Linked DNA regions of Homo sapiens. The protein of the gene in region 2 binds, or shares a complex with, the protein of the main gene of each other region. Each region holds a gene or a part of one and is shown on either strand. Other genes may lie near its edges.

What was found. Proteins that work in one complex are often made in the same cells at the same time.
Region 1: the proteins of EP300 (region 2) and NUTM1 are in contact, whole or in part, in an NMR structure (PDB 7XFG), measured with the Homo sapiens proteins. Residues at the interface, in NP_001420.2 of Homo sapiens: Arg1731, Ser1734, Ile1735, Arg1737, Ser1757, Lys1760, Met1761, Val1764, Ile1781, Lys1783, Gln1784, Leu1785, Ile1786, Ala1787, Leu1788, Tyr1791, Lys1794; in NP_786883.2 of Homo sapiens: Tyr405, Pro406, Asp407, Pro408, Gly409, Leu410, Leu411, Tyr413, Ile414, Glu416.

Annotation. Positions count from the first base shown.
Region 1 is NC_000015.10:34,346,315-34,349,814, reverse strand, and holds part of NUTM1 (NUT family member 1), read right to left. Parts: intron 1,847-3,500; coding exon 1,138-1,846; intron 1-1,137. UniProt on the Homo sapiens protein: Plays a role in the regulation of proliferation. Regulates TERT expression by modulating SP1 binding to TERT promoter binding sites.
Region 2 is NC_000022.11:41,099,092-41,102,591, forward strand, and holds part of EP300 (histone acetyltransferase p300), read left to right. Parts: intron 1-3,500. UniProt on the Homo sapiens protein: Functions as a histone acetyltransferase and regulates transcription via chromatin remodeling. Acetylates all four core histones in nucleosomes. Histone acetylation gives an epigenetic tag for transcriptional activation.

The DNA of each region.
Region 1 (3,500 bases), on a different chromosome or scaffold from region 2:
TGCCTTGAGAAAGCAGGGAGCCTGAAGACGCTGTACATCTAGGACTTTGGGGGAACATCTTGATTCATTTGCTCCAAGTTCGGGGTAGAGGGATTCCTTTAGGAGTTCAGCCACTGGAAGAGCACCATGTACATTTGTTTAAAGCAATAAAATGTGGTATGTGTTATATAGCGGCTTACACAAAATGCTGAGGGCACAGGGCAGTTGAGAGGGACAGTGGGTCTGGGTGGGAAGGGAAGACTGTTCCCCAGCTGAGGAATGACTGTTTTGTAAACAAAACAGCCTAGGACCCTGGGCTCCTTGACTAAACACACACTCGCTCTTAAGCAAGGACGTTTTGACCTTTTGCGAGTTCTTTTCCTCTTCTAGATGGCCTTTTTAGGATAATAATAAAACAGTTGACATTTAATGAAACATTCTCTGCGCCAAGGACTTCACATATATTAACCCATTTAATCTCCTCAGCAACTCTGTGAATTAGGTATAGTTATCCCCCTTTTTAACTGAGAAAACTGAGGGCAAAGATGTTAAATGTCCTGCCCAGGATCACAAATCTAGTGAGTGGTAGAGCCATGCCCTTGACCACTAAGCAAGCTCTACCCACCACCCTATTTCAAAGTGAATTCTCCTGAATAAAATGAGTGGAGGGAGCAGAGGGAGCAGCACACACAAAGTCCTTTGCCTGGCCCCACACTGTTCCCCCTGCCACCCAGGGCCCTGAGTTAGGGTCCAGCACTCATCCTGGCTAGTTTGGATAGTTCTGACTCAATGTCAAAAGGTAGTAAAATAGAACGGGGGGAGGACCCTGGCACTTAGAGTGAGAGACCTAAGTTCCAATCACTGGTCCTTGGTTTCAGTCTTCTTATCTGTAAATGAAGATTACCAGAGGAAGGCTTGCCTGAACTCACAGTGTGGTGAGGATCACTTAAGATAAGACACCTGAAAGGTTGTTATAAACTAGGAAGTGGGTTAAGAGGCTGATTATTATTATTAATATGTTTTTCATTCTCAGAGCATCTCCCTTGCCCTCATGACCTTCCCTCAAGTAGTCCTAAACAGCCTAAACTACTATGTTCACCCCAAAGTCCTCCTTATTTAAAAGCCCTAGAATAATTAATCTCCGGTCTCCCCACTTACATAAGAAAACAGGAAAGAGCTTCTGTGTCAGGACTCTGGGATAGGTGCCTCCGGGCCAAGGCTTTGTAACGCTGCCACTGACGGAAGTTCTCATAAACGTCCTTGGAAATTTTGGAGCGGTCACCTAGGGAAGGCTTGGATAGAGTGGCCACAGGACCTCCTTCCCCGGTTGTCCCATGTGGCCCTGGCCAAGCTTTTTCCAGGGGCACAATGGGGACCAGTTGAGCAACTGGTGGTGGAGGCTGAGGCGGAAGGCCTGGAGGACCCTCCTGGCTGACACCAACAGCCTTAGAGGGCAGAATGGTCTTCACATTAGATGCTGTCACAAATGGAGGTGCAGGACCCTCAAGGCCTCCACAGGGAGTGCCCGGGGCAGTCGAATTGAGGGCAGTCTGAGTAAGGATAAAGTTCTGAGTTTGAGAGGGCTCAGCTGACCCCCCTTCTGTCTTGACTTTGACAATGACCTTGCCAGCCCCAGCCCCACTGAGGCAAGGGCCCCCATCCCCTGTCACCAACAGTGAGCTGGGGAAAGCAGAGAGCATCAGAGGGTTGTCTGGAGAGAATACTGAAGGCATGATGGGCTGTGGAGGTGGCTCCCTGGGTGGGTGGTCTGGTGGGTCAGAAGTTGGTGGGAGAAAGGGAAGTGCAGGGGATGGAGACGGGGCGGCACTAGGTTTCATGCTCATATCCGGTCCCGGCAATGCAGATGCTGTTGAGACAAAGAAAAAGAAGAAATGGAGTAGGAGAAAAGAAGACCAGAGTTAGCCATCTGAATTCCCCATTTTTTTATTTTTATTTTTATTTTTATTTTTATTTTTATTTTTTGAGATGGAGTCTCGCTCTGTCGCCCAGGCTGGAGTGCAGTGGCACAATCTCGGCTCACTGCAATCTCCGCCTCCTAGGTTCATGCCATTCTCCTGCCTCAGCCTCCTGTGTAGCTGGGACTACAGACGCCCACCACCACGCCCGGCTAACTTTTTGTATTTTTAATAGAGACGGGGTTTCACCGTGTTAGCCAGGTTGGTCTCGATCTCCTGACCTTGTGATCCGCCTGCTTCGGCCTCCCAAAGTGCTGGGATTACAGGTGAATTCCTCCTTTATTTTTAAATTTTTTTGTAGAGGCCGGGCACGGTGGTTCATATCTGTAATCCCAGCACTTTGGGAGGCCAAGGTGGAAGGATTGCTTGACTCCAGGAGTTTGAGACCAGCCTGGGCAACATGGCAAAACCCTGTCTCCATTAAAAATACGAAAATAAGCCAGGTGCGGTGGCATGCACCTGTAGTCCCAACTACTTGGGGGGCTGGGGTGGGAGGATCGCTTGAGCCCAAGAAGTTGAGGCTGCAGTGAGCTGAGATTGCGCCTCTGTGCTCCAGCCTCGGTGACAAAGGAAAACTCTGTCTCAAAAAAAAAAAAAGAAAAATTGTAGAGATGACGTCTCGCTATGTTGCCTAGGCTAGGCTCAGACTCCTGGCCTCAAGTGATCCTCCTGCCTCAGCCTTCCAAAGTGCAGAGATAACTGGTGTGAGCCACCACACCCCATCTGAGTTCTTCTTTAGACCCGAAGACTCAAAGCACTGATTCTCAACAGGTGAAAGAGGGGATATGGATGGGGAACTTGCATAGTTTGCAAATGTCCCCCAAGTGATTTTGATCTTACTTCTCGTTGAGAATGACTGCATTAAAGAAGTTGCTTCTTTTTCAACAAGACACACAGACCCCTATCTGCCAAGAAGAGACAAGCCCAAGCCATCACTGCCTCTAAGTGCTGCTTTTTTTTTTTTTTTTTTTTTTTTTTAGATGGAGTCTTGCTCTGTGGCCCATTCTGGAGTGCAGCAGCACGATCTTAGCTCACTGCAACCTCCGCCTCCTGGGTTCAAGTGATTCTCCTGCCTCAGCCCCGCAAGTAGCTGGGATTACAGGCACGAACCACCACATCCAGCTAATTTTTGTATTTTTAGGACATACGGGGTTTACGCCATGTTGGCCAGGCTGGTCTCAAAAACCTGACCTCAGGTAATCCACCCGCCTCGACCTCCTAAAGTGCTGGGATTACAGGCATGAGCCACCGCACCCGGCCCAAGCAGAGGCAGTTTATAATACATTCCAGCCTAGTTTTCAGGAAGGCATTTCTCTGCAACAGATAACTACAGATTATCTTTTCCCACTAAGGTCCTTCCCACCTTACCCTCCCATCCTCCATCCTCCACATCCCCTTCCCCTCATAAGCTCAAGCATGGCAAAATCCTAGAACAGGCTCCAGTTGCCTAAAAAAGACAGATGAACTTGGGCCTTCCCCCTTGAAACCTCTCTGTGCCAGTCCTAAGACACATACCCCTGATCCTCTCTCCCACCACAAAAACAC
Region 2 (3,500 bases):
TCTTGCTCTGTTGCCCAAGCTGGAGTACAGTGGCGTGATCTCGGCCTATGACAACCTCCGTCTCCCGGCTTCAAGCGATTCTCCTGCTCAGCCTCCGGAGTAGCTAGGACTACAGCTGCGCAGCACCATGCCCGGCTAATTTTTGTATTTTTAGTAGAGACAGGGAGTCCTGACCTCGTGATCCACCCACCTCGGCCTCCCAAAATGTTGGGATTACAGGCATGAGCCACCGCGCCCGGCCTGTTTTTGTTTTTCGTGGATATACAGTAGTCCCCCCTTATCCTTGCGGGATACATTCCAAGATCTCCAGTGGATACCTGAAACCCTGTATAGTAGTGAATATAATTGTCATCAGTCAGAACACGTTTCTGTCCGTGTCTTCCACACACAAATTTAATGCCTTTTCCATCTTAACTAATCACTTGTCATGCACTGTGGCTGTGATGTTTGCAGTTTGAGGTACAACAGCAAAACTATCACGAATTTTTTTCCTTCACAATTTCATGTATAGATTTGATCTTTGTAACCTCCGCATACAATTTTTTTTCATTCCTTATTAAGTCAAGAACTTTCACCTTCAAGCAATTTACAGCTTCTCTTTGGCATATCCATATAGCTGTCATTGCTACTTTTGGACTTAGGGACTGTCATTAAGTAAAATAAGGGTTACTTAAAACTCAAGCATTGCCCTGCCCCATAGTCAGTCTGACAATCTGATAACTGAGATGGCTACTAAGTGACAAATGGCTGGTAGTTTATACAGGTGAATACATTAGACGGAGGGGAGATTCACTACCCGGTCAGGTGAGATTTCATCAGGCTACTCAGAATGGCGCACAGTTTAAAACATTGTTGTGGCTCACGCCTGTAATCCTGGCACTTTGGGAGATTGAGGCAGGAGGATTGCTTGAGGCCAGGCATTCAAGACCAGCCTGGGCAATGTAGTGGGACCCCCCATCCCCCCACCATCTCTAGAAAAAAAATTTAAAAAGTCAGCAAGGCATGGTGGCATGCATCTGTAGTCCTAGCTTCTTGGGAGGCTTAAGGTGTGAGGATCTCTTGAGCCCAGGAGTTTTGAGGTTACAGTGAGCTATGATGACACCACTGTACACTCCAGCCTAGGTGACATAGCAAGACTCTGTTTCTAAAACAACAAAAATTAGTGTTTATTTCTGCAGTTTTCTTTGTAATATTTTTGTACCACAGGTGTTTGAAATGGCAGAAAATGAAACGGGGTAAGGATGAACTCCTGTATAGATAGACTGGATAAAGAGAAAGCCAAGTGCATGATGTTCATAGAGGAGTCTTAAGAGTAAGCCTTATGTCATCTATCCAAATGTTGTTTTCTAGGAGTATAAGAATATAGGAACAGAGCTTAAAATGGAAAAATACTGTACAGTTAGCCTTCCGTATCTGAGGGTTCCGTGTTTGTGGAGTCAGCCACAGATTGAAAATATTTAGGGGAAAAAAATCCATGGTTGCATCTGTACTGGACATGTACAGACTTTATTTTCTTGTCATTATTCCCTAAACAATACAGTGCACCAACTATTTATGTTGCATTTACACTGCATTAGGTATTGTAAATAATCCAGAAAGAATTCAAAGTATATGGGTGGGTGTGTGTAGGTTATATGCAAATACTACATGTCCCCTTTATATCAGGGACTGGAGCATCCTCAGATTTTGGTATCTGCAGTGGAGGGAGTGGATTCTGGAACCAATTCCCAGCAGATACCAAGGGACAACCATATATATATAGTATCATGACATCTTGTATCATGTCACGTATATATATATCATATATATTATCATGTCACGTATACAAGACATCTTATATATCCTATCATGTAAGATGTCTTGTATACGTAAGTAATAGAAATGAAAATCAGCAGATAGTTAAGGCATAATGAGAAAATGGAAAACATTGTTCTTGTTAGAAATGTTTAAGAATGGCTTCTTGATAAAGAACTGTGTTAAGCATATTCTTTCTTCTTTTTAGACACAGAGTCTCACTCTGTTTCCTAGACAGGAGTGCAGTGGTGCAATCCTGGCTCACTGTAGCCTCCATCTCCTGGGTTCAAGCTATTCTCCTGCCTCAACCTCCCAAGTAGCTGGGATTACAGGCACCTGCTACCATGCCTGGCTAATGTTTGTATTTTTAGTAGAGATAGGGTTTCACCGTGTTGGCCAGGCTGGTCTCGAACTCCTGACCTCAGTCTGCCCACCTCGGCCTCCCAAAGTGCTGGTATTAGAGGCGAGAGCCACAGTGCCTGGCCAATTAAGCATAATTTTTTCTATTTTTCATTTTCTTACATGGATCTTTTTTTTTTTTTTTGAGACGGAGTCTAGCTCTGTCACCCAGGCTAGAGTGCAGTGACACGATCTCGGCTCACTGCCAGCTCCGCCTCCTGGGTTCATGCCATTCTCCTGCCTCAGCCTCCCTAGTGGCTGGGACTACAGGCACCCGCCACCATGCCCGGCTAATTTTTTGTATTTTTAGTAGAGATGGGGTTTCACCATGTTAGGCAGGATGGTCTCGATCTGCTGACTTCATAATCTACCCTTCTCGGCCTCCCAAAGTGCTGGGATTACAGGGGTAAGCCACCGTGCCCAGCCACCTGGGTCTTAAAGAATAAATTTTCTTGAGATGGAGTCTTGCTGTGTTGCCCAGGCTGAAGTTATCCTCCTGCTTCGGCCTCCTGAGTAGCTGGGATTGCAGATGTGAGCCACTATGCCTGCCTCTAAGAAACTTTCTTATAAAGGAGGAAGAAGAAAAGTAGCAGTGCAGTGCTCCAAAGAATTTTTTTACAACACTTAAGGAAGAACTACCTTTAACTTGTAGCACTAGAGACTCTGTTTCAAAGAATGCACAAGAATACTTACCCTTATTACTTGTAATATACTCTCATATTTTCTGTTGCTTTTTTTTCTTTTCTTTTTTTTTTTTTTTTTAGTACTGGTTGCAGCCTACTATATTGATTTTTATGACCCACTGTTGGCTTTTGAGCCATAATTTGAAGAATACTGGCGTAGAAGAGTTGACAAGATGGCAGTTATTCTGTATTAGGCCAACATTTTCTGTATGCCAGGAACTTATCCTCTGTACATTGTTCCTTCTTTCCTTCCTGGAGTTTATAGATAAGGGAAGAAGACTGGCATTCACGGAGTCTGGTGTGATCAGCATTGTATTTGGGAAGTACGTATATAGTGGGAGGAACAGGAGAACCTAACCCAGTAGTTATCCTGGTGGCTGTCTTTGAGGAATTGTGTCTGATTTTGGGATCTCACAGATAGAGATAGGATTAGTAAAAATGAGCCCAGGCTAGAAAGGAGACTGTGTGAGGCCAGGTATATCCTGTTCTGGGAACCTGTGAGTGCTGTCTGACTGGTAGAATAGCCAAAAACTTGACTGTAGAGGTGAGCAAGGGGGCCAATCATGGAGGGCTTATAATACAGGAATTTAGACTTTCCATTTTACCCATTTAATGGATGGGGCA